Homo sapiens: one gene and its partners. The main gene of each other region encodes a partner of the protein of the gene in region 3 in a complex. Each region holds a gene or a part of one and is shown on either strand. Other genes may lie near its edges.

The links.
Region 1: the proteins of RLIM (region 3) and UBE2D2 are in contact, whole or in part, in a crystal structure (PDB 6W7Z), measured with the Homo sapiens proteins. Residues at the interface, in NP_057204.2 of Homo sapiens: Ser571, Val572, Ile574, His595, Cys596, Arg599, Trp600, Glu603, Pro608, Ile609, Arg611; in NP_003330.1 of Homo sapiens: Met1, Arg5, Lys8, Glu9, Asp59, Pro61, Phe62, Lys63, Ile88, Gln92, Trp93, Ser94, Pro95, Ala96, Leu97, Thr98.
Region 2: the proteins of RLIM (region 3) and UBE2E2 are in contact, whole or in part, in a crystal structure (PDB 6W9A), measured with the Homo sapiens proteins. Residues at the interface, in NP_057204.2 of Homo sapiens: Ser571, Val572, Cys573, Ile574, Thr575, Cys596, Arg599, Trp600, Pro608, Ile609, Arg611; in NP_001357154.1 of Homo sapiens: Lys52, Thr55, Lys58, Arg59, Lys62, Pro112, Asp113, Pro115, Phe116, Ile142, Asn146, Trp147, Ser148, Pro149, Ala150, Leu151, Thr152.

Annotation. Positions count from the first base shown.
Region 1 is NC_000005.10:139,562,917-139,572,490, reverse strand, and holds part of UBE2D2 (ubiquitin-conjugating enzyme E2 D2), read right to left. Parts: intron 1-9,574.
Region 2 is NC_000003.12:23,582,796-23,592,369, reverse strand, and holds the end of UBE2E2 (ubiquitin-conjugating enzyme E2 E2), read right to left. Parts: intron 2,637-9,574; coding exon 2,539-2,636; 3' UTR 576-2,538; downstream 1-575.
Region 3 is NC_000023.11:74,610,497-74,621,041, forward strand, and holds the start of RLIM (E3 ubiquitin-protein ligase RLIM), read right to left. Parts: upstream 4,129-10,545; 5' UTR 3,926-4,128; intron 2,148-3,925; exon of another isoform or gene 2,086-2,147; intron 1-2,085. UniProt on the Homo sapiens protein: E3 ubiquitin-protein ligase.

The DNA of each region.
Region 1 (9,574 bases), on a different chromosome or scaffold from region 3:
TTGAGTAGCAGGGATTACAGGCACATGCCACTGCACCTAGCTAATTTAATTTTTTGTAGACACAGGGTCTTGCTATATTGCACAGGCTGGTATTGAACTCCTGAGCTCAAGTGATCCTCCTGCCTTGGCTTCCCAAAGTGCTGGGATTACAGGCATGAGCCACCATATCCAGCCAGTGCTCTCAATTTTAATACAAGTATGCATGATTTCATACACTTTGGCTTGTACTCCATCAACAATACTACTTTGATAAGCATTCTAATAAAGTTGGGAAACACCAGATATGAGGAAGAAGAAAGCAGTTTATCAGAAGCCAAAGGAACTGAATGAAAATCATGTCAACTATTACGAAAGTTAAATAAAAACTTAGGTATCCACTGAATGTGGCAATTAAGTAATCATTAGTGACCTTACTAAATAGTTCCAGAACAGTGAATAGACTATTCTTTCAAGAATTCTGGGACTGAAATGTCAGAGATGGGAAGGATAAAGATGAGGAAGGAAGTAGCTCTTATGGAAGAGGGAAGTTTAAAAAGTTATTTTACTGCTTTTTTTTTTTTTATAGGGGAAAACCTTCGATAAGTTTGGATGCTAAGAGGAGTTAGTGGAGAAGAGATTGGAAGTATGAAAACAAAGACAATTACCGGAGAGCAAAAACAAGAAAAGGAAAAAGGAAGGAAGGAGGGAGGAAGTGAGTGAGGGAAGGAGGAAGTGAGGGAGGGAGGGAGAGAAGGAAGGAAAGAGGGAAAGAGAGAGAGAGAAAAGGATGGAAAGCAAAAGTTAAGTTTGGCAAAGGGAAAAGTAAAGCTTCTCTAGAGATTAGAGGGGAGAAGGGCTATGACTAAAACAAGTAAATCTGGAGACACAATAGCTCTACAGTCAAGATCGCCTGTATCTGAATCCTAGTTCTTCCTACCATAACCATATAATGTTAGGCAAGTTTATTTCTCCCACTGTTTCCTTATCTAACCTGGGGAGAACAGAATTATTGAAAGATTATTGAAAAGATCAAGTAATTCCTGATGCACAGTGAGTACTCTAAAGTGGATAGCTGAAATCTGTGTTTGTTTTTTTTTTTTTTTTTGAGAGGGAGTCTTGCTCTGTCGCCCAGACTAGAGTACAGTGGCACGACCTCGGCACACTGCAACCTCCGCCTCTTGGGTTCAAGTGATTCTCCTGCCTCAGCCTCCCAAGTAGCTGGGATTACAGGTGCCCACCACTGTGCCTGGCTAATTTTTGTATTTTTAGTAGAGATGGGGTTTCACCATGTTGGCCAGGATGGTCTCGATCTCCTGACCTCACGATCCACCCGCCTCGGCCTCCCAAAGTGCTGGGATTACAGGCATGAGCCACCGCGCCCAGCCGATCTGTTGTTTTAATACCTTGAAGGAAATCCCTAACAACTCACACGTAAGATTTATATTTTCTCTGCAGAACAGGTACTCTGTTCATCTGCTGAGATTAAAATAATGTTTAAGGTGGAAGGACAGTGGTTTTTAGTCTTTTTAGAGATTAAAAACCCATTTGAGGCTGCTCTGCCTAGGGAGTAGCCATTCTTTATTCCTTTACTTTCCTAATAAACTTGCTTTCACTTAAAAAACAAAATCCATTTGACTCTGATGAAAGATATATGCAGAAAGCCGGGGGTGGTGGCTCATGCCTGTAATCCCAACACTTTGGGAGGCCAAGGCAGGTGGATCACTTGAGGTCAGGAGTTCCAAACCAGCCGAGGTGGGTGGATCACGAGGTCAGGAGATCGAGACCATCCTGGCTAACATAGTGAGACCCCATCTCTACTAAAAATACAAAAAATTAGCTGGGCATCATGGCACGCGCCTGTAGTCTCAGCTACTCTGGAGGCTGAAGCTGGAGAATTGCTTGAACTCAGGAGGCAGAGGTTGCAGTGAGCCGAGATCACACAACTGCACTCCAGCCTGGGCGTCAGAGCTAGACTCCATCTCAAATAAAAACAAAAAACAAAAATTAGCCGGGCGTGGTGGCATGCACCTGTGGTCCCAGCAACTTGGGAGGCTGAGGCAGGAGAATCTCTTGAACCTGGGAGGCAGAGGTTGCGGTGAGCCGAGATTGCACAACTGCACTTCAGCCTGGGCGACAGAGGTAGAGACTCCGTTTCGGGGGAAAAAAAGGCGGGGTGGTGGTGGTGGTGAGAATAGAACACCAAATTTGCAATAGTTGTTTTGTTGTTGTTGTTGTTGTTTTGACACAGAATCTGGCTCTGCTGCCCAGGCTGGAGTGCAGTGGTATGATCACAGCTCACCGTAGCCTTAACCTTTCATCCAGGCTCAAGTGATCCTCCTGTCTCAGCCTCCTGAGTAGCTAGGACTACAGGCACACATCACCATGCCCAGCTAATTTTGTTTCACTTTGTTTCGCTTTTGTAGAGACAGGGTCTCCCATTACAGACCAAGCTGGTCTTGAACTCCTAGGTACAAGCAATCCTCCCACCTTGGCCTCCCAGTGTTGGGATTACAGGCATGAGCCACTGTGTCAAGCCTAAATTTGCAGTTTCAAGCAGTATGAGCAACCTTGCCAATCATATAAAGGGAAGTTGAGGAAGATCTTCAGGTTCCAGGACACAGTTTAAATATCCAATTGTTTGAACAAAAGAAAAAAGGCTGCATCCTCTGGATTTATATACCTAACAGCTATGTAAGGATAACACATGGCTTGCCAGAAAATACACTGGACAGTCCAGAAATCCAGGTTCTCAATTCAGACCTACTCTTACCTGGTAGGTCACACGGCCTTTCCAGACAGCAGCCCTGAGATGTGCTGCAGTGCTAACATTTTATGATTCTATTACCCAAAATCTCACTTGACTCTGCAGACAGAAGAACAAACACTACTTTATTTCCCTATATTATAGTTTAACATGATTTTGAAGGTTTGCCTGGAAATCTAACCATCAAAACTTTATTTCTACAGACAAAACAAGTGTGTTTCTGCATTTCTGGGATGAGGCTGCAAAGGTTCCTGGTAGCATGAGGCATGAGTCAGATACTCCTATCCTGGGAACTGCCTAGGATATTTTAAGAGAAATATACAGAATTGGACCTTGTCAAAACCTCTTCCTTGTCAGTCATCAGTACAGTAATATACACTGGGAGACTTCAGAGAAAACCTAGATTTATTAACAGTTATCCTCGATGGCTGTTTGAATTATATTTAAATAACAATCTAGTAGAGCCAAAGAAAGTGCCTTAATTCAATGATCTTTTGTAAAGGAAATAAAAAATACTTTTTTAGTGGGGAAAAAAAAATTCCCAGAACTTATGTGAAGAAGCTCACCTTTTGGAGTAAGAAGGTATCCAAGATAGAACTATCCAAGATAGAACTAATTTAAATAGCCATATTCAGACAACCATTTATTAAAGTTCCCAATACTCCACAGGACTACCTGTTAATTCATCATTTTGATAGGAATTCAATCAGTCCTTACCTCTAATATTAATCTAATATATGGTACCACACCTCTAGTACAGTATTTTTTTTTCTTTTTTGAGACGGAGTCTTGCTCTGTTGCCCAAGCTGGACTGCAGTGGTGCGATCTCAGCTCACCACAACCTCCACCTCCCGGGTTCAAGCAACTCTCTGCCTTAGCCTCCCCAGTAACTGGGATCACAGGTGCTCACCACCATGCCCGGCTAATTTTTATATTTTTAGTAGAGACAGGGTTTCACCATCTTGACTAGGCTGGTATTGAACTCCTGACCTCGTGATCCACTCACCTCGGCATCCCAAAATGCTGGGATTACAGGCGTGAGTCACCGCGCCCGGCCTACAGTATTTTTTATTTTCATTTTTTTCTTTTTCTAGACAGAGTTTCGCTCTGTCGCCCAGGCTAGAATGCAGCGGCGCGATCTCCACTTACTGCAAGCTCTGCCTCCCGGTTCACGCCATTCTCCTGCCTCAGTCTCCCGAATAGCTGGGACTACAGGCACCTGCCACCACACTGACTAATTTTTTGTATTTTTAGTAGAGATGGGGTTTCACCGTGTTAGCCAGGATGGTCTCGATTTCCTGACCTTGTGATCCACCTGTCTTGGCCTCCCAAAGTGCTGGGATTACAGGCATGAGCCACAGCGCCCAGCCCGGCCTACAGTATTTTTAAGCAATTTTTTTTTTTTTGAGATGGAGTCTCGCTGTTGCAAAGGCTGGAGTGCAGTGGCGAGATCTTGGCTCACTGCAACCTCTGCCTCCCAGGTTCAAGCAACTCTCCTGCCTCAGCCTCCTGAGTAGCTGGGATTACAGGTGAGTGCCACCACACCTGGCTAATTTTTGTATTTTTAGTAGAGACAGGGTTTCACCATATTGGGCAGGCTGGTCTCGAACTCCTGACCTCAGGTGGTCGGCCCGCCTCAGCCTCCCAAAGTACTGGGGGATTACAGGCATAAGCCACCGCACCCAGCCTAAGCAATTTTTTAAAATACAGTACTGTTCAGCGTTACAACTACTTTCTTTAAGATCATGCTTCGGTAACTTCCCAATCTCAGACATTTTCAAAGTGTATTGTCAGTCTACAGAGAAACTCAAAACATGAAACAGATCATAATGGAAGAGTAATACATAAACTTCTACGGGATCAATGTATTTACAAAACTGGTTTTCCCAAGACCTCACACAAAACCATACAAAAGGCGGGGCACAGTGGCTCACGCCTGTAATCCCAGCACTTTGGGAGGTCGAGGCGGGTGGATCACTGGAGGTCAGGAGTTTGAGACCAGCTTGGCCAACATGGTGAAACCCCGTCTCTACTGAAAATACAAAAAGTAGCTGGGCATGGGGGTGCATGCCTGTAGTCCCAGCTACTCGGGAGACTGAGGCAGGAGAATGGCGTGAACCCAGGAGGCAGAGCTTGCAGTGAGCCGAGATTGTGCCACTGCACTCCAGCCTGGGCAACAGAGCGAGACTCTATCTCAAAAAAAAAAAAAAAAAAAAAACTTAGCAAATTGGCTGGGTGCAGTGGCTCATCCCTGTAATCCCAGCACTCTGGGAGGCCAAGGCGGGCAAATCACCTGAGGTCTCAAAAAAAAAAAGCAAGTTAATTAGAATTGTATTTAAAAACTACTTAAGGCCGGGCACGGTGTCTCATGCTTGTATTCCCAGCACTTTGGGAGGCCGAAGCAGGTGGATCACAAGGTCAGGAGTTCGAGACCAGCCTGGCCAATATGGTGAAACCCCGTCTCTACCAAAAATACAAAAATTAGCTGGGCGTGGTGGTGCGAGCTTGTAGTCTCAGCTGCTCGGGAGGCTGACGCAGGAGAATTGCTTGAACCTGGGAGGCGGAGGTTGCAGTGAGCCGAGATCATGCCACTGCACTCCAGCCTGGGCGACAGAGCAAGACTCCATCTCAAAAACAAACAAACAAGAAAACTTAATCTTACATAAAGCATTACTTTCAAACTTTTAAAAATACAGAAAGTATTGTTTAAATGACTTAATCTTTTTACACTCCTGATTACTTAATGAACCCCAATCCCTGGTTACTTTAATCCACATACTAAACTGATGTCGACCAAAAATGCGTATTTTGTTGTTCTTTTTTTTTTTAAGTTGAATCGGTTGCCAAAAAATCTGGATTTGTGGCTTCTCTTTTTTTTTTGAATGGAAGATATTGCAACACTGGGCCCACAGATTTTAGCAATAGCAACATTTGCAGGGAGCTGGTTAGCAGTTGCCCTCATCTGATAGCACATGCATTTTCTAGCTCCCTCAAGTTCTCTCTGCTCACTTTGGTACCTGCCTGGCTTTTATAGACATCAGAGTTTGAAATCTTTTTGTTTGTTTGTTTGTTTGAGACAGGGTCTCACTCTGTTGCATAGGCTGGAGTGTAGCGGCTTGATCACGGTTCACTGCAGCCTCTACCTCCCAGGCTCCCGAGATCCTCCCACCTCAGCCTCCCACCTAGCTGGGACTACAGCCATCCACCACCATACCCAGCTAATTTTTTGTATTTTTTGTAAAGACCATGTTTCGTCATGTTGCTCAGGCTGGTCTCGAACTCCTGAGCTCAAGCGATCTGCCCACCTGGGCCTCCCAAAGTGCTGGGATTACAGGCGTGACCCACTGTGCATGACCCACTGTGCATGACCTGAAATCTTTATTTCATTGAGAACTTTGTCTTGAGACGCCTTAAAAGAAGCTAGCCATAGGCCGGGCACAGTGGCTTACACCTGTAATCCCAACACTTTGGGAGGCCGAGACGGACGGATCTCCTGACGTCAGGAGTTCAAGACCAGCCTGGCCAACAGGGAGAAACCCTGTCTCTATTAAAAATACAAAAATTAGCTGGGCATGGTGGTGAGTGCCTGTAATCCCAGCTACTTGGGAGTCTGAGGCAAGAGAACTGCTTGACCCTGGGAGCCAGAGTTTGTAGTGAGCCAAGATCATGACACTGCACTCCAGCCTGAGCAAGACTGCCTCAAAAAAAAAAAAAAAGAAAGAAAAAAAATCTCTATCACAGAAATAGATCAAGTGATAATCCTGGCATTACTTTGTTTGAAAGCTATGTATGCCAAACGTTATCTGCAACTAGTAGGACACCATTAAAATGTACAATGCACTATTACTGTTAAGAAAAGCTTTTAGTATCCAACTCTGGTCAGTCTTCAACTCCTCAAAGAATCAAGATATTTATTTAGCCTTTTACCCTTCCCAAGAATAGAGAAATTAACCAAATACTTCAACATTACAGCACTCTAAGAGCACCAAAAAGCCTCCTACATCTGTATAGCAAAAGTAAAGAAGAAAAACAGGAAGCAAGTCAGAAAGGTCTCCGATCAGCCAAGGAAACCACACAGTTCACAGAGCACATGAAGCCCTCTTCAGTCAAGAGCCTACTGGATCTTATTTTAGACACAATTTTAATAAGCTCTGTGATCTGGTTTCTTAGCCCACAACAGATGAGATGCAGCCAACTGGAAAAGGGCTGGGGGTGGTGCTGCTAGAGGCAGGCACTCAAAGCATCAAAATCAAGGCTGAAGACCTAAAAAGTCAGCAGAAAACCTTAAAACATAGCAGGGTGGGGCCATGTGGTGTAGATACCAACAATCCCAAAGGATCCCAAGCCCTGCCCAGAACTACACACAATGTTCATAATGACCCTCTTTGCTATGCTCTGCTTATAGTATAGGTCAGGGGACCTTAAGATGTATATCAAAATAAAGTCCATCAAAAGCTTTTTCCAAAAAAGACATGGCATTTCAAAGACTGCCAAATTCACAGACATGAATAGCGTCCCTCTGTCAAAGAAACAAGATATTGAATTCCTGAAGATGTCACATGTCAAATGTAGTTTTTCTTAGAAAAATCTTATCAGAACCCAGATGTAGCAACTCATGACATTTAAGTCAAGAAGGTATTTAAGTAGAATTATTTTTTCAGGGAATGATAATTGGGAAGGTTCAAGATCAATTATAGAAGCCAAGCAATGGGGATTCCACTGCAGACACATTACTAGGACAGAAGATAAGATAGAACTGATCTTATCCATGCCTAGGAAGTCAGCTATTCAACTTAAAATTGTGGTACAAAGAGTTTGGAAAAAAAAAATTAATCTCCATTTTGTTTTCACAATCTTTTTGAGTGGTATACCAAAATAAACTTCATTTTTCTTATCACTAGCTGTCTCAGAGAAGTCAAGCCATACTTTGTGAAGAGCTCTAGGGAATAAACTAGGGGAAAATGGTTAATATTGAATTCTAAAAGTTCAGGCCAGGCCAGATGACGTGGCTCACATCTGCAATCCCAGCACTTTGGGAGGCCAAGGTGGCAGAACACTTGAGGTCAGGAGTTCAAGACCAGCCTGGCCAACATGGTGAAATCCCGTCTCTACTAAAAATACAAAAATTAGCTGGGCATGGCGGCGGAGTGCCTGTAATCCCAGCTACTCCGGAGGCTGAGGCAGGAGAATCGCTTGAACCCAGGAAGCGGAAGTTGCAGTGAGCCAGGATAGCACCACTGCACTCCAGCCTGGGCGACAGAGGGAGACTCCGTCTCCAAAAAAAAAAAAGTTCAGGCCGGGCACGGTAGCTCACGCCTATAATCCCAACACTTTGGGAGGCTGAGGCAGGTGGATCACCGGAGGTCAGGAACTAGAAATCAGCCTGGCCAACATGGTGAAACCCCGTTTCTACTAAAAACACAAAAATTAGACAGGTGTGGTGGTGCGTGCCTGTAATCCCAGCTACTCGGGAGGCTGAAGCAGAAAAATCACTTGAACCCAGGAGGTGGAGGTTGCGGTGAGCTGAGATCGTGCCATTGCATTCCAGCCTGGGCGACAAGACTGAAACTCTATCCCCCAAAAAAGTTCAAATTATTTCTAAACTTGATTTTATTAAAAAAATCTTACAAAGGCATATTTTAAGGAAAATCTATTCTAGAAAATATGTAGCAACTCATAAGAAACTATATTACCAGAGCAAGTATTATTAATTAAAACGTATGTTTTGTGTCAAAGAGATAGTTCCCTCTCTGAAAAAGTCCGTTACACATATAATTCAATGTAGAGATTAAAGTCTACATTTCTTTTTTTTTTGAAAGGGAGTCTCGCCTGTGGCCCAGGCTGGAGTGCAGTGGCGCGATCTCGGCTCACTGCAAGCTCCGCCTCCCCGGTTCACGTCATTCTCCTGCCTCAGCCTCCAGAGTAGCTGGGACTACAGGAACCCGCCACCAAGCCCGGCTAGTTTTTTTTGTATATTTTAGCAGAGACGGGGTTTCACCGTGTTAGCCAGGATGGCCTCGATCTCCTGATCTCGTGATCCACCCACCTCAGCCTCCCAAAGTGCTGGGATTACAGGCGTGAGCCACCGCGCCCGGCAGGTCTACATTTCTTTATCTGTAAATTATTACACATTATACCCACTTGCTCTTTCTCAGGTTATAAAATAAGAGGACAAGCTTCTACAGGTATTTGATAACTTCCCAGTTAGATTCTATAAGGACCTAGCAATTCCTAAAAGCCTTTAAAATACATATGTATATATTTTTTTTGGATGACTACTCCTCAGTGTGCTCCCCTGCCCCTTAAACGGTTCTTTAAGACATCTTTGCTTAAGGTTCAAGCTTCTTTATGGTATTTAACAAATACCATTTCATTTTAGTACAAGATTTATTGTCTAAAATCTGCCCTTCTTCATTTGTTAGAAATCAGAGTCAAAAGAAGTTAAGGAGCTAACCTAATTATAGTAACCAATGGGACTGATTCCACACTGTCTTTGAGCAAAAATGAAATGAGGACCAACCGCTGAGCTGAGGTGTTTAAATCATCAATCTGTATTCTGACTTAGTTTAAGACAAGCTAAAAACTGGTTCTCTTCCTCTTGCATCCCCATCCCATCATTCAGAATGGATAACCCCAGTACCTACTTCTAAGTAGCTACAGGTATAGGCCGTGTGCAGTGGCTGATTGATGCCTGTAATTCCAACACTTAAGGGAGGCAGAGACAGGAGGCTAGCTTGAGCCCAGGAGTTCCACACCAGCCTGGACAACACGGCAAGACCCCGTTCTCCACTAAAAGGAAAAAGATGTATTGAAGAAAAAAGTAGCTACCGG
Region 2 (9,574 bases), on a different chromosome or scaffold from region 3:
CAGCTCATTTTTGTATTTTTTTGTAGAGCCTGGGTTTTGTCATGTTGCTTAGGCTGGTCTCGAAATCCTGGGCTCAAGCAATCTCTACCTCGGCGTCCCAAGCTAGGATTACAGGTGTGAGCCACCAAGCCTGGCCTAATAACACATTTTTAAATGGTCTGATGTACAAGTAGATGTGAAATGTGCAATGTAATATATTTATCACTTAAAATGTGTGTTGGCTGGCTACAGTGGCTCAAGCCTATATAATCCTAGCAGTTTTGGAGGCTGTGGTGAGAGGATCACTTGAGGCCAGGAGTTTGAGACCAGCCTGGGCAACACAGTGAGACCTTGTTGCTACAGACCAAAAAAAAAAAAATTTAATTTAAAAACTGCCTATAAAGATTGTCTTTAAAGTATTAGTATTATGGGTCTGGTTTAATCAGCCAAAAGTAGGGGAAAAAAGCAGTTTAATAAAATTTTATTTTCAATGGTTCAATGCCTTTAGTGCTGAATTTTAAAATCTGAAGTAAAAATAAAAAACTTTGTGGTGAGAAACTGTAGGCAATTAAACATTCTGAGCAACTTTCCAAAAATCAGTGTTGTACCATATTGAATTTATTTTATGTTAAAGAAAGAAATGACACATCGTTATTTGTTTTTCATCCAGCCCCCAGTCTATGTTGGTCTGTGTCAGGGATTGGCAAACTACAACCCATGGGCCAAATCCCATGCCTATGGTGGTAAATAAAGTTTCACTGGAATATAGCTCTGCCCAATGCATTTATGTACTGTCTGTGGCTCCCTCTACTACAACTAGAGGGTTGAGTAGTGCATCAGAGACCATACAGTGCCCTGCTATGCTGAGAAATGTTTTTAAATAAAATGAATGGTAAAATCGTTATTAAAAAGACAAAAAATATTCTCAGGTATTTTGGTTTAGAAGTGGCATTTGCAATATTTAAATATATTTTCTTAGGATTTATTTTTAACTAGTTAAAAACAACAAAAACTGTATCTTTTGAATCAGGCATTTTAAATGTTAAAATATTTAGAGGTGGATGACTTATGCTTATAAATCCTGCTTTTCAGCAGTGAAGGTGTTAATGGTTCCTTAAATGAGACCAAGAGTATGGTAGGGTCTGTAACTGTATGGTGCAGCAGGAGTAGGAGTTTCCACTACGCTTTGTTACACTAATAACCCTGAATTATCAATCAGCAAGTCAGCGTGTTTTAGAAACTACACCACCCACGTTTCCTCTGCCTCCTATAGCTGCACACTAAAATAGCCTGAAGGTGAAGCCAGACAGACACCCTTGTCATTGAATGGGCTGACCGTGACCAATACAGTTGAGTTTACTTCTTTTGCTAAAATCATGGAGAAAAAAGAGCAGCAACAACAACAACAACAACAACAAAAATGAACAATACAAAGCTTGAGGGCAATCACTGTAACAATTTTGAGAGAAATAAAGTTGAAAGTGGCTGAACACAATGATTAGCTCAGACTTCACTTTCACAAGAAGGCTATTTTTGGAGTTACATATTTTAATTGTTGATAAAGAAGGCTGTAACAGAAAGAATGCCCAGTCAATATGTAAAATGATAGCAATTTACTATAACAACCATAAAATCATCAGGCTACTGACAGCTGGAGAAATTCCACATGCTAAGCAACTCAACTCCAAAGAAATATTAGAGGTTTGAGATGAAAAATACACTTGAACCTGTAATTGAATTAGACAAGCCTCACTGCACGTAGGGCTACAGCGGTCACCAGGACACAAAGCAAATGTCGGGTTACCAGAAGTGCAGTTATCAGCCACAGTGATTTATTGAGTGCTTTAATAATACAAGTGTACATCAACTGATCCACAGTCAAAAGTGGCAGGTCCCTAAGAAATTTACAAGCACTTTAAGTAAATCAAAATACATATTATTTTGTTCAATCCAACAGTCTTCTGCGGGAGGGACAGAAGGCTAGTGATAAACAGAGTCTCAGTAATGCACAGTGATTCTGATTGAAGCTTTTGTACAAAAACTTGTTCCCAGTAGCATGCACCCACCAATAAAGACTTCAGTACAAAAAATTAACCCTAAGCACTACATTTAAGTAGAAACGAGATATAATTCTGAATGTGTTTTCCCAAAGATCACATAAAAGAAAAAAAAATCAAAATCAAATAAACAACAACAAAAAAAACAAAACCACACAGTAATACAAAGCTTTGTAAGAAAGCTCTTACTATTACAGCTCCAACATTGTTTGCACTGAAAACAAAAGTTCCCATCTATGATGAGGTGGGAAAAAATCCCAAATCTTTCAAGTTAACAGAAATCAACAAGGGAATAAAATGAGAGATAAAAGAGAGCGTGGGAGAGAGGAAGGGGGGCAGGAAGAACTGGGATGGGAAGATGGACAACATACCATCACAAAATGGTTCCAAATTTAATAAAAATAGGAAAATAAGAACCGAGGTCTGGAGGGGTGGGCAGGGCTACCGATGCACTTGGTGAATGTGCTTGCACAGGTCCCGCGGGGCGGCAGGCAGCAGGCCCCTATGTGGCGTACCGCTTGGTCCACTGTCTGGCCATCCGGTCATGCTCTGCTCTGTTGGTCATGTACTGTGTGGCGATGCTGCCCACCAGAGGGTCAGCTGCAAGGAAAGCAGAGTTGGGAGTCAGTAAATACCAGCACTGTGGGGGAAGAAGTGTTCAGAAAGCTGGCAAGGAGTGGGAGGGTAGGAGATGAGAAGCTGCTGTTCTAACCTGGACCACCATTGCTGCGGCTGAGCCAGTCACCTGCTGCTGACAGACTACATTTCACACCAGCTGCCCCAAGAGTCACCTATCTGTATTTTACTGATAGCTCTTGTCATATTTCTTGACAAGTCTTATTCTCTTTCCCTGTACCCACCACATACTTCTCACCTTGCTCCCCTCGTATTGGTTTTTTTTTTTTTCTTTTGAGACAGGGTGTTGCTCTGTCACTCAGGCTAGAGTGCAGTGGCATGATCACAGCTCAGTGTAGCCTTGACCTCCTGGGATCAAGCAATCCTCCTCCTGCCTCAGCCTCCTGAGTAGCTGGGACCACAGGTGTGTGCAACAACACCTGGCTAATTTTCAAATTTTTTTTTGTAATTTTGGGGGTCTCACTATGTTGTCCAGGATAGTCTCAAACTCCTGGGCTCAAGTTATCCTCCTGCCTCAGCCTCCCAAAGTGCTGGGATTACAGGTGTGAGATGCCTGTCTTCAAGTAGATATTTCACGGAGAAAATGCAGGTGGGCTGTGGGCAGGGGACTCATGGGCTCTTGATGAGCTCTCCTGGGAAGACGTTTGGCGGTCTGGACAACTCCTTACCCTAGGCTAGCACCACAGGCAGGTGGCATTCTCCTGCCAGATTACCTTATCTGAGGAGACGCCAGAGTCTGAGCTGGACAGTCAAAAGAGGGGAGAGATGGTCCACTTCTTCCTCAAAATTTGGTAACATCCAACCTACATAGCTCATTATTACAAAAATACTAATAGATGTTAATAATAGCTAACACTCACCATGACTAACCATGTCCTAAAACTCTAATATGTTAATGACATGGATTTCTAAGGAGCTGACACAGGAGGAAATTGGAGCATAAGGAGGCTGAGTCTCTTGCCCAACGTGGAGAAAGGGGTGGAGCAGGGCTTGGAGCCAGAGTTCACCCTCTTAACTAACAGGGTGCTGTTAGTTAACAGGGTGCTTAACTTAACAGGGTGCTGGGAGATAGCTCTCTATCCAGAATATTGATTGGGTCAACGTTTAATTAAAAAAATTGGGGCACGGTGGCTCATGCTTGTAATATTAGCACTTTAAGAGGCTGAGGCAGCAGGATCGCTTGAGTCCAGGAGTTTGAGTCTGTAGTGAGCTATGATCGTGCCACCACATACCAGCCTGGGTGACAGAGTGAGACCCTCTTTAAAAAAAAAGACAAAAAAAAAAAAACAAAAAAACAAAAAAACAAAAAGCAAAGCAATTAAAAAAAAAGTAACTTAGGTTCCTAAAGATCCCAGATTCTACTCTTTTCCCTCCAATTCTCTAATTTCACTCTTTCCCCGATTTATATTTCCCCTATTTTTGGTATTGGGAATTTGGGTATATTAGAGCAGTCAGGTAAGGAGGATCCACTAGGGAAAATGAGAAAAATCATCAAAAGCTAATGTTTGGTAGGAAAAAAATAGTAGAGAATATGGAACTACGTCTGTGGCCCAACACCACCGGCAACTTGGGAAGATCCTGAGACTAACCTTGTAAGGCACTCATGGTCATATGTTCTCAATATGAAAGGTATAATAGAAACACCACTTTTTAACCTATCTGCTGAAGCTCATGATAACAAAGCCTTTGAAAGCCTGCTCAACAAGACTTGCTTAAGTTTTCCTGGAATTGTGTAAATCTCGTAATAATTATTCCAGGGAGAAGCCAGTTTCCTACATTCACTTATATCACAATTAGTAGACTACTTAGTATGTGGGTTTGTTCGAAACGTTTGCCTCTCTGCCTACTCTTTGTGATTCTTCTTCATTTTCTCAGATGTTGAAATGAAAACTCTACCATTTCACCCAGTCCAGTCAAGATTCAACAAGATTTAAACCAGCACTACCAAATACAGACACAAAATATCTGGCAATTGGCCAGGATACTTTTTTAAAAATGTAGCCTTTCACTTGAGCTTAAGTAATGACATTAGAGTAATAGGGGCCAAAGTGAAATCTGAGTCACATTTCTCTACCTTCAAAAAAAGTAATCTTGTTCTGATTCCTGGCATTCTAGAATGCAAAGAGTAGGGTGAAACGTGGGCATCCTTAATAGTTTAAGTCTGTATCACTCAAGATAGGTGTTTAATTAAATAGAACTTATATTAGTGAAACACATTGAAGATCCATTCTAACTTACTGATGAAGGTAAGGCTCAATGTCAGAAGAATAACACTGACTTATATGTTCCACCTCAAACTGTACCCACATCCAGAGTGTACACACTGGGAATAAGACAGGTCTGCCACTTCAGCTCAAAGGGGGTGGAGGGAAACAAATGAAGAATAAAGGGAACAAGAAGCTGTGGGGTGGGAAAATGTGTCATATCAACTGTTAATAGTATTTCAGTACAGGCAAAAGGAGAAACAATTAAAAACAAGTTAGAGTGCTGGTAACAATTAGCGTGCGTTGTGCAAACTTTTTTTTGCATGCTTAACATTTAATTGCTTTCAAGGTTCTTTTACGTTTTCAAATTTGATTAAAAAATTTTTTTTCCACCTGTAAAATTATACACACTAACTATAAAACAGTAATTAATAATAATTTAGAAAACCACCTCAGACAATATGCAAGACAGGAAGTTGAAAGTAAAGACCATCTCGTGTATAAATCCACGCAAAGAAAACTGCTGTTAACATCGTGGTATGTTTTCTTCCTACACTTCTAATCACATGATGTAAAAAAAAAAAAAGGGATTAATTTATAGTCTGCTTTTGTAATCTTTTAAAAAATAACTATGATTTTTATACCGATATGGTAAATAACTTTTTACATAGATAATTGTAGATCTACTTCATCATTTCTAATACCTGAATTAAGAACGAATTTCCTGTTTTTAGATGTTTGGGTACTCTCCAACTTTTGTTTTAAAAACAACGATGTGAGGACCATTACCATGCATGCATCTTTGGAAGTTATACAAATCTTAAATTTGTTTAAAGTATAAAATGAAGGGATAAAGTAAAAATACACAATGAAGGAATTAAAAAAATCATGTTATTGGCTGGGTCAGATGGCTCACGTCTGTAATCCCAGCACTTTGGGAGTCTGAGGGTGGAGGACAGCTTGAGGCCAGGAGTTCAAGACCAGCCTGGGCAACACACTGAGACCCCCAACTCCACAAAAAAATAACAAAAATTAGCCAGGTGTGGTGGTGTGCCCCTGTAGTCCAGCCTACTTGAGAGGCTGAGGTGGGAGGATCGCTTGAGCCCAGAAGTTTAAGACTACAGTGAGCTGTGATCATGCCACCACACTCCAGCCTGGGTGACAGAGCAAGACTCTGTTTCTAAAAAAATAAAAAAGACCACTAACAATTAGTATTTGATGTTCACTTAAAATTCTATTCAACATAGTAACTATCTTCTCATATCAATTTACATGTCCCTATGATTTTCTGAATATTACCCCCAGTAGCAGTGCTGATGTTTAAGCTAATATTTCATGAAAGGAGAAAAAGGCTACAAACTACTTTTTCATATGCTGCACATAAAGATTCAGCTCAGTGGAATAATCCTGAAGAGCTAGTTGTGAAAATGGATCTCTGCTGAAAATGGTAAATTGTATATGCTTAATTAAGGGAGGACTTTTCAATGTGAAAGTCTGAAAATACTGTTTCTTAGCAGAATGTTAAACTTAATAAATGGTAAATAAAAGTCATGAATTTAGCAACACTAAAAGGTAATAAAAAAAAAAAACATGTTATCAACCAAATAATTTTTTTTTTTTGTTGAGACAGTTTCACTCTGCCATCCAAGCCAGGCTCCAAACATAAATTACTGTACCCTATTTCTCTAACAAGAAGAAAATATTTCCCATCATTTTGGGTTTCTAGATTGTTACTATTTTCCCAAATCTTTATTAATATTTGAGATTATCATCTGTCAGTTTTCCTCATTTTTACTAAAGAAAAGCCACAAAATTTATCAGTAGATAAGTAAATTGAAATCAAAGCCTCCCACATTTTCTGTTTTTGTTCAAAAATTATTTACACTTTTGAAAAGAGGAGCATGTTCAGACTTATGCAGAACAGAGTTAGATGACTTCAAGTACTTAATTCTCCCAAACACCAGTACGGCATGTATTAGAGGTTTCCTGAGGCAGAAGTATAGGATCTACAGTGTGGTTAACAGAATATCATAGAGATGGAAGTTAGGTATACAAAGCTTTCCTCTAAATCACATTTCCTCATCTGTTTAATAAAAATCATGTCTTTTTTTTTTTTTTTTTTTGAGACAGGGTCTCACTCTGTTGCCCTGGCTGGAGTGCAGTGGTGGGATCATAGCTCACTGCAGCCTTGACCCCTGGGCTCAAGCAATCCTCCTGCCTCAACTTCTTGAGTAGCTGGGACTACAGGCACACAGTAGCATGTCCAGTTTATTGATTTATTTTTTTTGGTAGAGACGGCAGATGTTGCCCAGGCTGGTCTTAAATTCCTAGCTTCAAGTGTCCTCCCACCTTGGCCTCCAAAAGTGGTGCGATTACAGGATGAGCCGCTGCTCCAAGCCAGCATCATGGCATTTTTGTTAACAAAATACCAGTCATAAAATAATAACCTGAATGAAAGCGTAAGACTGCAAGATCACTGATGAAGGGGAACATACCTTCTTCTTACTCACCTCTACTTCCTCTATCTCACCTCTGTCTCCCTACACAATTTAGAAGCAAAGAGTACATACCTGTCAACTAACAATCACTATTATTTGCAAGCGAGTGAAAGACTGTCATACCAACTGGGCACAGCGGCTCATGCCTGTAATCTCAGCACTTTGGGAGGTTGAGGCAGGAGGATGGCCTGAGCCGAGGAGTTTGAGACCAAGCCTGGGCAACACAGTGAGAACCCATCTCTACAAAAAAAAAAAAAAAAAAAAAAAAACAAAAAACAGCTGGGTGTGGTGGCATGTACCTGTGGTCCCAGCTTCTTGGGAGGCTGAGGTAGGAGGTTCACTGGAGCCCAGGGGGTCGTGATTACAGTGAGCCATGATTGCGCCACTGTACTCCAGCTGGGCGAAAGAGCGAGACCGTCTTTCCAGAAAAAAAAAAAAAGATTGTCATATTGCGTAATCTACCTCTTCGCATTTTTTGAGATCTGTGGTATGTGCACCTTTGATTCTAGAGGAAAAAGGCTCAGACAACTCCCACCTTGCCTCTTTAATGGATGGAGCTACACTGGGTACCCTGGAAGCCAAAGGGTTTATAGTCCCACCTAGAAAAGGGAGGACAGAGACAGGGAACAAGACTAAAAGGGATCGATGGATGTAGATGCAAAAATCCTCAACAAAATACTAGCAAACCAAATCCAGCAGCATACAAAAAAGCAAATCCACCATGATCAAGTAGACTTTAACTTTGGGATGCAAGGTTGGTTCAACACATGCAAATCAACAAATGTGATTCATTGCATAAACAACGCAAACAAAAAACCACGTGATCATCTCAACAGATGCAGAAAAGGCTTTTAAAATTCAACATATCATCATGTTAAAAACCCTCAACAAACTAGGCACTGAAGGAACATACTTCAAAATAATAAGAGCCCTCTATGAAAAACCCACAGCCAACATCATACTAAATGAGCAAACATTAGAAGCATACCCCTTTTGAAATCCAGAACAAATCAAGGATGCCCTCTCTCACTACTCCTAGTCAATATTACACTGGAATTCTTAGCCAGAGCAATCAGGCAAGAGAAAGAAATAAAATGCATTCGAATAGGAAGGGAGGAAGTCAAACTATCCCTGTTTGTAGACGATATGATTCTATACCTAGAAAACCCCACTGTCTCTGCCCCAAAGCTCCCTGACCTGATAAACAACTTCAGCAAAGTGTCAGGATACAAAATCAATGCACAAAAATCAGTAGCATTTCTATGCATCAACACCATACAGGCTGAGAGCCAAAACAAGAACACAATCCCATTCACAATAGCCACAAAGAAAATAAAATACAGCTAACCAGGGAGGTGAAAGATCTTTACAATGAGAATTACAAATCACTGCTCAAAGAAATCAGAGGTGACACAAACAAATGGAAAAACATTCCAAGCTCATGGAAAGGAAGAAGTTTGTTAAAATGGCCATACTGCCCAAAGCAATTTACAGGTGCAACGCTATTTCTATCAAACTACCAATGACATTCTTCACAGAACTAGAAAAAACTATTTTAAAATTCATATGGAACCAAAAAAGGGCCTGAATAGCCAAAGCAATGCTAAGCAAAAAGAACAAAGGTGGAAGCATCACATGACCTGACTTCAAAGCATACTACAAGGCTATAGTAACCAAAACAGCATGATACTGGTACAAAAACAGACACATAGACTAGTGGAACAAAATAAAGAGCCCAGAAATAATGCCACATATTTACGACCATCTGATCTTTGACAAAGCTGACAAAAATAAGCAATGGGGAAAGGACTCCCTATTCAATAAATGGTGCTGGGCTAACTGGCTAGCCATATGCAGAAGATTGAAATTGGACCCCTTCCTTACACCACATCCAAAAATCAACTCAAGATGGATTAAAGACTTAAATGTAAAACCTAAAACTATGAAAACCCTGGAAGACAACTTAGGAAATACCATTCTGGACACAGGCCCTGGCAAAAATTCCATGATGAAGACTCCAAAAGCAACTACGACAAAAACAAAAATTGACAAATGGGATCTAATTAAATGAAAGAGAGTCTGCACAGCAAACAAACACACAACACACACACACACACACACACACACACACACACTCAACAGAATAAACAGACACTCTACAGCATGGGAGAAAATATCTGCAAACTACGCATCTAACAAA
Region 3 (10,545 bases):
TTAAAATATAAGAAAATCTAGAGCAAAAATACCAACTATATATGTCAGGAGAAAAACCACAAGTTCATAAATATATTCCCCCAATTGAGGTATATTTAAAAAATACCTCAATTGGCCAGTCGCGGTGGCTCACGTCTGTAATCCCAGCACTTTGGGAGGCCAAGGTGGGCAGATCACAAGGTCAGGAGTTCGAGACCAGCCTGGCCAATATGGTGAAACCCCATCTTTACTAAAAATACAAAAATTAGCCAGGCGTGGTGGAGAGCGCCTGTACTCCCAGCTACTTGGGAGGCTGAGGTAAGAGAATTGCTTGAAACCAGGAGGTGGAGGTTGCAGTGAGCCGAGAGTGCACCACTGCATTCCAGCCTGGGCGACAGAGTGAGACTCCGTCTCAAAAAAATAAAAAAATAAAAAATAAATAAATAAAAATACCTCAATTGATAAAAAGAGAAATGAATTGCTGGATTATCTGGGAAACTTTCATGTTTGAGGCTGAGAAAAAAAAATGAAAGAAAAATAGATACAGAAGTGTTATTACTTTCTTATATTGGACATCAGAACTTCAATTTATTATGTAAACTAGATACTTTCTGAAATCAATGGGCCATAGGTTTTAGAAATCTTTGTGTTAAAGAAAAACCTGTCCAGTTCTAGGCAGTGGCACAAAATTCTAGGCCCTCATTGGTTTGGGTTTGACAGAAGACTTTTTATTCTCTAATTTGTCATCCACTCTATGGTAAATGAAGAGAACAGGAGGCTGGCTGGTGATTTGCTCTATTTCTAATCCACCATGGCCATGGAAAAATTAATGTACATATAATATAATTCCATAAATGCAGATGCCTCATTTGACCTACTACTATATTAAGGCTCACTACATGTTCACTAACCTCAAAGATATCCAACCAGCCTAGTATTTCCAGATCATTTAATTATTAAGCTATTTCTTAAAATCATTTCTGATTTTAAATTAAGTTTATCAAATGATATACAAGGAGCTATCCATTTAACATCTATCAATGAGCCCATCCAATTACAGGGCCTGTGAAATAGAACAATAAATATGTGTAAACATGCATAATAGCTGAAACAGGAACGTAACAGACGAAAAGGGGGGATTGCTGGATAACCTTTAAGTATTAACAAAAGTTTCTGATGCAACATAACCTACAGACTTTTTACTACAACCTTTCATTTTCATTGCATTTCCTATCTAATTAGACAGCAATCAAACCCAGAAGTATAACGTCAGACAGGCCTGGGATAAAATGAGGGCTCCACCACTTAAAGCTATTTAACTGAGGACAAATTATACTTAACCTCTTTGGGTTTTTGGTTTCCTCTATAAAAGTTAACATTCTCATGAGGCTCTGTTGTGAGAATTATAAAATAATGCATATAAAGCACATGGCCTAGCACCACAGGCCTTCAGCAGAAGTTGGTTATGAATTTAGGCTAAGTATCCATCCCAGTTTGTCGGGGACAATCAAGGTTTGCACCTGCTGTCCAGGAATTATTAATGTTCCTTTTGTTCTTAAAAGTGTCTTGGTTAGGCAATAAATTATGTGGTTACCCTAATGATGATGATAATAATAATGAAAGGAGTCAATATCAATTAAAAGTATCATGTATCAATTATGAATTTTTGAATCTTAAAGGAAAAAAATCAACCACCACACACAAAGTAACGTAAAATTATACTCTCGTAAGCTATTCTGATATTTCATTTAGTTATCCAATGAACATTTAAATGTTATTTTACTTATACTCATGCCATTCCAACAATGATATAAGACAACAAATTTTTTGTTGTTGTTGTTCTATACAGGTATTGGTAAACTTCAGACATTATTTTAAAGAGTCAAATTCACAGATAAAGCACTGGTGAGTTCCAGGTATCCAGAAACATTACCCTTTTAATTCCCAGTGAAAAGTACCCATTCTTATCATGAAGAATACCCAACACCATCTAACATCTATCAATGAGCCCATCCAATTACAGGGCCTGCAAAATAGAACAATAAATATTTGTAAACATGCATTCTACACATAAATCATCAGGAGACGCAACAAAAAATAAATTACCTGACTGTTATGACATAGTATTGAAATACAATAAACTGGATTTTAGTTTTCTTCACTCTGCTCTAGAAAAAAAAAGAATCCATTATTCTTCCTCTTTAAAAAGATACACATTTTCTTTGAATTAGACACAACCTAAAAAAAAAAATACAGACACACCATAACCCAACCTAATTCAATATTAGTATTAGGGCATTTGGGGAGAGCAAGAAGGTCAGAGGGGACCAGGAGTTAGATAAAAGATGTCTTCTAAGACTGAGAGACAATTTACGTTTTATTATAAGCTTGCTTAAAATAAGCCTTTCCTTATCAGACCAGTAATTATTTTCAGATTCTGATAGTCACTTTCAAGGACTTATCTGGCACATTACACTAGCCTAAGGTAGGAACTAAAGTATTAAAATTCATCAGAACATCATGGACTAAAAAAATCTTTGTAACATTTTTCAGTAAGTGGAGTGTGTCCTAAAATCAAGTTTTAAAAAGTGGATTGGTCTTTCTAGCTACCTAAGCTATATTTCTACAGTTTAGAAAAGTCATGGGGGGGGAGGGGTTATAATTGTGCCAGTCCTCCAGGGAAGATACAATGTACTTAATGGGGTGATAAGTAGTTACTCTGTCTATAATCACGAAGAATGAAAGAAATGATTAGTAGCAGTAGGTTTATTATTTCTTCCCCCTTTCAATCAGTCCAAAACACTGCGGTTAATTCTGATTCAGGAAATGCGGGCTCCTTACTTCTGGCAAAAAATCATTGTGGGGTCTTGCAAATGGAAGATGACAATCTGATACAACTGCTTCCTCTTGCCCCAAAATGAAAAAAAAAATGACCTCAATAACAAGACTGCTAGGCCTCAGATTCCCAGACTAACCTGTGGAATAAGTATGGTGAAACTGTCTAGGGAAGGAACGTGGCTGTCTCCTCCATCTTGAAATTAATCAGCATAAGGGAAAAAGGGACCGAGTATTCAGGAAGCAGAAGCCCAACCGGTTAATACTAGTTACTAAGCTATGGCATGCGTGGCAGGTACCGTCTGCAGAAGCAGAGACCCCCCTAGGCTTTTTTTTTTTTTTTTAATGGGGGAGGGATTGAGTTGTTGGTGGATTAAACACAAATTAACTTGAAAATTTGGCCCAATTCCATCCCTTATCCAGGAGAACACAACAAACACCTAACGGCTTTTCCCTCTCTTTTGCGGGGGGATCCTTCCAGTGATACCTGGCAAAGGATATGCCAGGGTTATTCGAGCAAGGGAGTAAACCACATTTGCCTCAGATCCTCAGGGAAGATGTCATCGCGGCCCCAGGGGGCGCCTAATTGGTAATACCCTGCAGAAGGGCTCAAAATGAGGTTTTGGAAATCTAAAGGCCCAAGAGTTGCCAGCATCTCACTTGGGGCAGCCTGATTTTTTACTTCCCTTTTCCCAAACCCAAGCCCGCCATGGAAAACGCGGGGAGGTCAGGGAAGCCTCCAGAGAACAGAGAAGAAAAAGCCTGAGACGTTCTAAGATTCTGACGCCTGAGGCCAAAACTCAAAAACTGCCTCCCCCGATTTCCTAAGGCTCCGGAGGGCCTGGGCTGCAGCTCGCGCGGCCACCGAGAGGAAGTACTACCCACCTCCTTCCCCTTCAAAGAGCCTGTCGACTATACCACTCAACTAAAATGGCAGCGGCGACTACGCCACGGAGCCCCCCGCAGCAACGGGCCTGGGGTCCGGAGGCGGCGCTGAGCCTCTGCCACGACGCGTCACTCGGGCCATTTTGAGAGAACGCGGCAGCCGCGGCTCCGCTGTCTTCCTCTCGCTCTACATCATTTCTCACAGGATTCCCAAGTCTTCACTTACTAGGTTTTAGGGTCAGGATCCGACTCGGTTGGTTCGGCCGCCGCCGCCGAGGCTGCTCCGCACCTCCCTGGCCGCCGCTCTCAAGCCCGCCTCCAATGAGTAGCTGGTTGAGACCCGCCTCTAGCCCAGCGCCTGCTCGGAGACGTTGCTCAGGCAGCCATTATCTTCCCCATTGTTACCAAGCAGCGACAGGAAACGACTGCCCACAACAGGAAGTGATGATGCCGCGTCCCGGCACCGCAGCCCCACTCCCAGCCTATTAGCCAATCCCAGTCGATTCCTCGAAAAGGCTCCGCGGGAGGAGGAGGGGGACGGCAGACGACGCGGCAAGGCGGGCGGCGGTTTGGAAAAGGAAAGCTGTTATGACGCCCACCATGTGACAGGCCCCACCCTCCTCCGCCATTTTGAATTGTGGCGAGAAATTTGCGTTCTGAGAATTGTGGGAACCTTCGCTTTCCCATTTTGAAAACTGAAGGACGTCACGGTCTGACTGCTTGAAGACATTTTCAGAGAGAGAGAAATGTGATATTAGTCTACCCTGACATCACATCAGTTCACACAATCCGTGCAGACCAGTTCAAAAAGTAGCCTGCGTTTTATTCAACATGTATTTACACAGTGCCAACTGCATGTCAAGCACCATTGTAGCTGCTTAGGAAATTAAAATAGACCAAAATTAAGAAAGAAAACAGGCCACGTTCGGTGGCTCACGCCTGTAATCCCAGCACTTTGGGAAGCCGAAGCGGGCGGATCACCTGAGGTCAGGAGTTCGAGACCAGCCTGGCCAACATGGTGAAACCCAGTCTCTACTAAAAATACGAAAATTAGCCGGGCGTGGTGGCGGGCGCCTGTAATCTCTGCTAATCGGGAGGCTGAGGCAGGAGAATAGCTGAACCCAGGAGGCGAAGATTGCAGTGAGCCGGGATCTCGCCACTGCACTCTAGCCTGGGTGACAGAGCAAGGCTGTGTCTCAAAAAAAAAAAAAAAAAAAAAAAGAAAACAGATCAAAATCCCAGTTCTCTTGAGTCTTTATAGGGGCCAGGGACAATAATTTAGAAAAAATCAAACATAAATACATATCATGTTAGTGATAAATGCCAAGGAGAAAAATCAAGGAAGGGGGACAGAAGAGTTCCTTGTAGGGACAAACGGATTCGTGATGTTTAAAAGACTGATAACTTTGAGGCATTAACTCTAAAGTATTCGAAAAAGGGCGGTGATTGTAAAAGGGTGGGAAAATCTGATAACGTTGGGATTTGTAAAAGGGCAGTTAAAGAAGGCCTTTCTTAGGTAGTAATGCCTGAAAGAATTGAGGGAACTCGCCACACAGCATGCCACTCCCATTGTCACAGTTAAAGGAAAACCTTACCCAAGTTTTTAGATTCTTTTCCTTTTCCCAATTTTTCTGTTTTCCAATAGCATGCCAGCTATGCTGGCTTTGTTACGGTTTTTCCAACAAAGCTAACTTCTTCCTACTTCAACTACTTTACCTTTGCTGGAATATTTTACTTTCATATCTTTGCTTTCATCATCCAAGCCTCGCAATTATTAACTTCCTAGAGAAGCCTTCCCTGACCACCCTACCTAAAATAACTTCTTCCTGAAGGCGGAAAAAGGTCTGAGGAAAAAAAAAAAAAGAAAAAAGTAATAACGACTTCTCCCATCTCCTTACCTGCTTACTTTTCTTGTAAAACACTTAATCTGAAAGTAAGTTATTTATTTGTTTGTTTACTTCACCCTTTCTGAGCAGTAAACCTCTCTGTTTTGTTCACTGTTGTGTCCCCAGCGACCACATAGTAAGCCCTCAAAATACTTTGGGAGAATTACCCCCTCACCATGATGGATGTTATATCAGCCTGGAATATAAGTATTTCACTCCAAGCAGTTAAAACAATATCCCTCATACTTACCTGCCCAACTCCCTAGAAGACTCATTGATATTGTCATTTTTGGCAGAGGGATACATGATTTAGGCGCTGTGTCTCTACTCAGGTTTTTGTCTTATTTTACATAATCATGTACTAGAACGATTACCTAGAACGTGTAAAAGGAATTCTTCAGTAGCCTGCAATTGCCATTAAGCCTGATATTCTGATTATGGCAATAACATTAGCCACTCCTTAACGTATTCTTGAGGCTTATGTGGCTTAATCTAAAATATAAAATCATAAAAGAAGTGGAAGAAAATACAGGTTACTATTTCTGTCCTTTCTTCCTTCCTTCCTTCCTTCCTTCCTTCCTTCCTTCCTTCCTTCCTTCCTTCTTTCTTTCTTTTTTTTTTTTGATGGAGTCTTGCTTTGTTGCCCAGGCTGGAGTCCAGTGGCATGATCTCAGCTCACTGCAACCTCCGTCTCCTGGGTTCAAGCGATTCTCCTACCTCAGCCTCCCCAGTAGCTGGGATTGCAGGCATGCACCACCACGCCTGGCTAATTTTTGTATTTTTAGTAGAGATGAGGTTTCACCATGTTGGGCAGCCTGGTCTCCAACTCCTGACTTCATGATCCGCCTGCCTGGGCCTCCCAAAGTGTTGGGATTACAGGCGTGAGCCACTGTCCAGGCCTAGGTTAATATTTCTATAGCCTTGGGGATGCAGAAGCACTTTTGAAATACAACACAAAATCCATAATGGGAAAGACTAATAAGTACAACTTCATAAATAAAAGTAAACCTTCTAAATGTCAAAATACAAGGTTGGTAAAGTTAAAAGACAAATGATAAATTGAAAAAAATCATTTCATAATGACATATTAGAGCCAAGGGGTAATATCTTTACTTAATAAAAAGACGAAACACTAGCAAAAATGTTACATATGTGATAAACACATATGGCTAATATCAGCCTATAAAGAGTTGTTAAACATTGATTTTTAAAAAGATAAATACCGGCCGGGCGCAGGGGCTCACACCTGTAATCCCAGCACTTTGGGAGGCCAAGGCAGGCGGATCACAAGGTCAGGAGATCAAGACCAGCCTGGCCAATATGGTGAAACCCCGTCTCTACTAAAAAAAATACAAAAATTAGCTGGGCGTGGTGGCGTACTCACTCCTGTAGTCCCAGCTACTTGGGAGGCTGAGGAAAAGGAATTGATTGAACCCGGGAGGCAGAGGTTGGAGTGAGCCGAGATCATGCCACTGCACTCCAGCCTGGGTAACAGCAAGACTGCATCTCAAAAAAAAAAAAAAAAAAAAAAGAGATAAATACCTCCATTTCAAAATGTGCAAGGAACATGAATGGATAATTCATAAAAGGATAAAACACGTGGCTGATAAGCATATGACAATATATTCTTTTTTTCTTGTTAGTAAATAACCTTGTACTTGAAAATATATTCAGCCTCACTAGTAATTAATCAAAAATAAAAACAATGAGGTACAACTATTATGTATCCATAATAATTAAAAAACAATAGCTGGGTTCGGTGGCTCACGCCTGTAATCCCAGCACTTTGGGAGGCTGAGGCGGGTGGATTGCCTGAGGTCAGGAGTTTGAGACCAGCCTGGCCAACATGGTGAAACCCCGTATCTACTAAAACTTCAGAAAAAAAATTAGTTGGGCGTGGTGGTGGGCACCTATAATCCCAGCTACTCGGGAGGCTGAGGCAGGAGAATCGCTTGAACCGGGAGGCAGAGGTTGCAGTGAGCCGAGATTGCGACATTGCACTCCAGCCTGGGCAACAAGAGTGAAACTCTGTCTCAAAAAAACAAAACAGAAAAATTTTATGAACTAAAAAATTTTTTAAAAAGTTCCTTTTTTTGCCTGTTAGAATGTCAAGGATAAAAAATCGATAATATTAATTGTTGATGAAGATCCTATGAAATGGGCACATTTGTATTGCCAGTGGGACAAATTGATATCAGTTTTCTTTTTTTTTTTTTTTTTGAGACAGAGTCTCACTCTGTCACCAGGCTGGAGTGCAGTGGCGCAATGTCGGCTCACCGCAACCTCCACCTCCTGGGTGCAAGCAATTCTCCTGCCTCAGCCCCCCGAGTAGCTGGGATTACAGGCGTGCGCCACCACACCCAGCTAATTTTTGTAGTTTTATTAGAGACGGATTTTCGCCATGTTGGATAGGATGGTCTCGATCTCTTGACCTTGTGATCCGCCCACCTCAGCCTCCCAAAGTGCTGGGATTACAGGCATGAGCCACCACTCCCAGTTTTCTTAAGGCAATTTGGTAATGTGTTTCAAAAGACTCATATTCATAGTATTTGACAAACATGTCCAGGTACAGAAATTTATTTTAAGGAAAGAAGTGGACAAATTTGCAAATATGTATGTAATGAATGTGCAAAGATGCTAATTACAGTGTGGTTTATAACATCGAAATATTGACAAATCAGAAAAAATAACCATCCAACAACAATTAGTTATAGTATAACCACATAATAGACTACCATGTAGCATTAAAAATAAGTACCTAGAGCTGGAAATACGTTCAGGTTACTTTTTTTTTTTTTTTTTTTGAGACGGAGTCTCACTCTGTCACCCAGGCTGGAGTGCAGTGGCACAATCTCGGCTAACTGCAACCTCCACCTCCTGGTTTCAAGCGATTCTCCTGCCTCAGCCTCCTGAGTAGCTGGGACTACAGGCTCGTGCCACCACGCCCAGCTAATTTTTGTATTTTGAGTAGAGACGAGGTTTCACCATGTTGGCCTGGCTGGTCTCCAGCTTTTGACCTCGAGTGATCCACCCACCTCTGCCTCCCAAAGTGCTGGGATTCCAGGCATGAGCCACCGTGTCCGGCCTCAGGTTACGTTTTTAATGAAAAAAGCGATTTACAATACAGCTTGTGTGACTCCATTTTTATTTAAAAGATATGTATAAATATGCCTAGAAAAAAGCCTAGATGAGCATACATTTTTAGTCACTTTTATGTTCTTTTTTTTTTTTTTTTTGAGATGGAGTCTCACTCTGTCACCCAGGCTGGAGGGCAGTGGCATGATCTCGACTCACTGCAACCTCTGCCTCCCGGGTTCAAGCGATTCTCATGCCTCAGCCTCCTGAGTAGCTGGGATTACAGGCGCCCGCCACCATGCCCGACTAATTTTTGTATTTTTAGTAGAGATGGGGGTTTCACCATGTTGGCCAGGCTGGTCTTGAACTCCTGACCTCAGGTGATCCACCTGCTTCGGCCTCCCAAAGTGCTGGGATTACAGGCATAAGCCACCGCTCAGGGACCATTTTTATGTTCTTTACCCCTTTCAGTATTGTCTTCAACATTTTACAATGTGCATTATTACTTGGTATTGGAAAGGGGTAGAACCTTTTTTATTTTGAAAGAAAAATCTGCCTGAATTTGAAGACTACATATCTCCCTTACCACTTATTCTTTCCATGCTTCAAATATACTTTCTTTCTTTTCCTTTTCCACATATTCATTCGTGTTCTTTTATAAGCATGGAGCTACTTTACTTACAATATCAAGGAAAGTACTTCTCAAAACAATTTATCTCATGGTAGCATTCAGTGCCACTCTAGAACCTACCAAAGCAACTACTAAACACTTGTTTGGTTTCTATTTAGCCTAATTGCATTTCCCTCCCATGTTGTTTGGTTGGTTTGTTTGTTTGTTTTGAGACGGAGTCTCGCTCTGTCGCCCAGGCTGAGGTGCAATGGTGCAATCTGAGCTAACTGCAACTGTGCTTCCCAGGTTCAAGCGATTCTCCTGCCTCAGCCTCCTGAGTAGCTGGGATTACAGGCACCCACCACTCCTGGATAATTTTTGTGTTTTTAGTAGATGCGGGGTTTCGCCATGTTGGCCAGGCTGGTCTCCAATTCCTGACCTCAGGTGATCGGCCCGCCTCGACCTCCCAAATTGTTGGGATTACAGGTGTGAGCCACAGCACCTAACCCCATATTCTTTTTATGTATGTGTGACCTTCAAATGATTTTTACCCATTCTTGGTCAAGTGTCCCTTAACAGGAAAAAAAGAAAAGATCTTCCCAATCTTCCTTCTGTTCATTTTAACAAAATGTATTGATAATCTGCTACCTTCTGGTCGCTGGGGACATACCACCATCAGTACACCATACACTAGAAGACCCTTCCCTATGGCAAGAAAGACATTGAAAAGATACTTTTAAATGTAATGAACATTACAAAGGAGACATAAGGGTACAATGGCAAGTATGTAAAAGGAACATTTAACCAGAAGAAGCTGCCATTTTTTTAGCTGAGATCTGAAGACGGAATGATGGTTCCGGATGAGAGGAAGATGAGAGATGAACCCTGGGAGAGGGAATAACTTGTACAAATTCCATGGGATGAGAGAAGGGAAACTGGGGAACTGAAAGAATAGCTTAGTTTCTCTAGCAAATATTCTATTTTATTTTCTCTATAGCACTCATCAGAAAGGAATTTGTCTTGTTATTTGTTCATTTTGTTTGTTGATTGTATTTATATGTTTATAGTCTATCAGTGTTTCTGCTGGCCCGCCCCCACTTCTGGCCAGCGTAAGCTCCGTGAGAACTGAGGCTTTGCCCCACCCCCTCTCAGCAGTATTTTCCCAGCCTAAAATACCTAAAAGGCACTCAATCAATATTTCTTCAACTAATCAACGAATTAGCTTGTAGTTCATATTAGACATTTTGGATCTTATCCTAAGAGCAATGAGAAGTT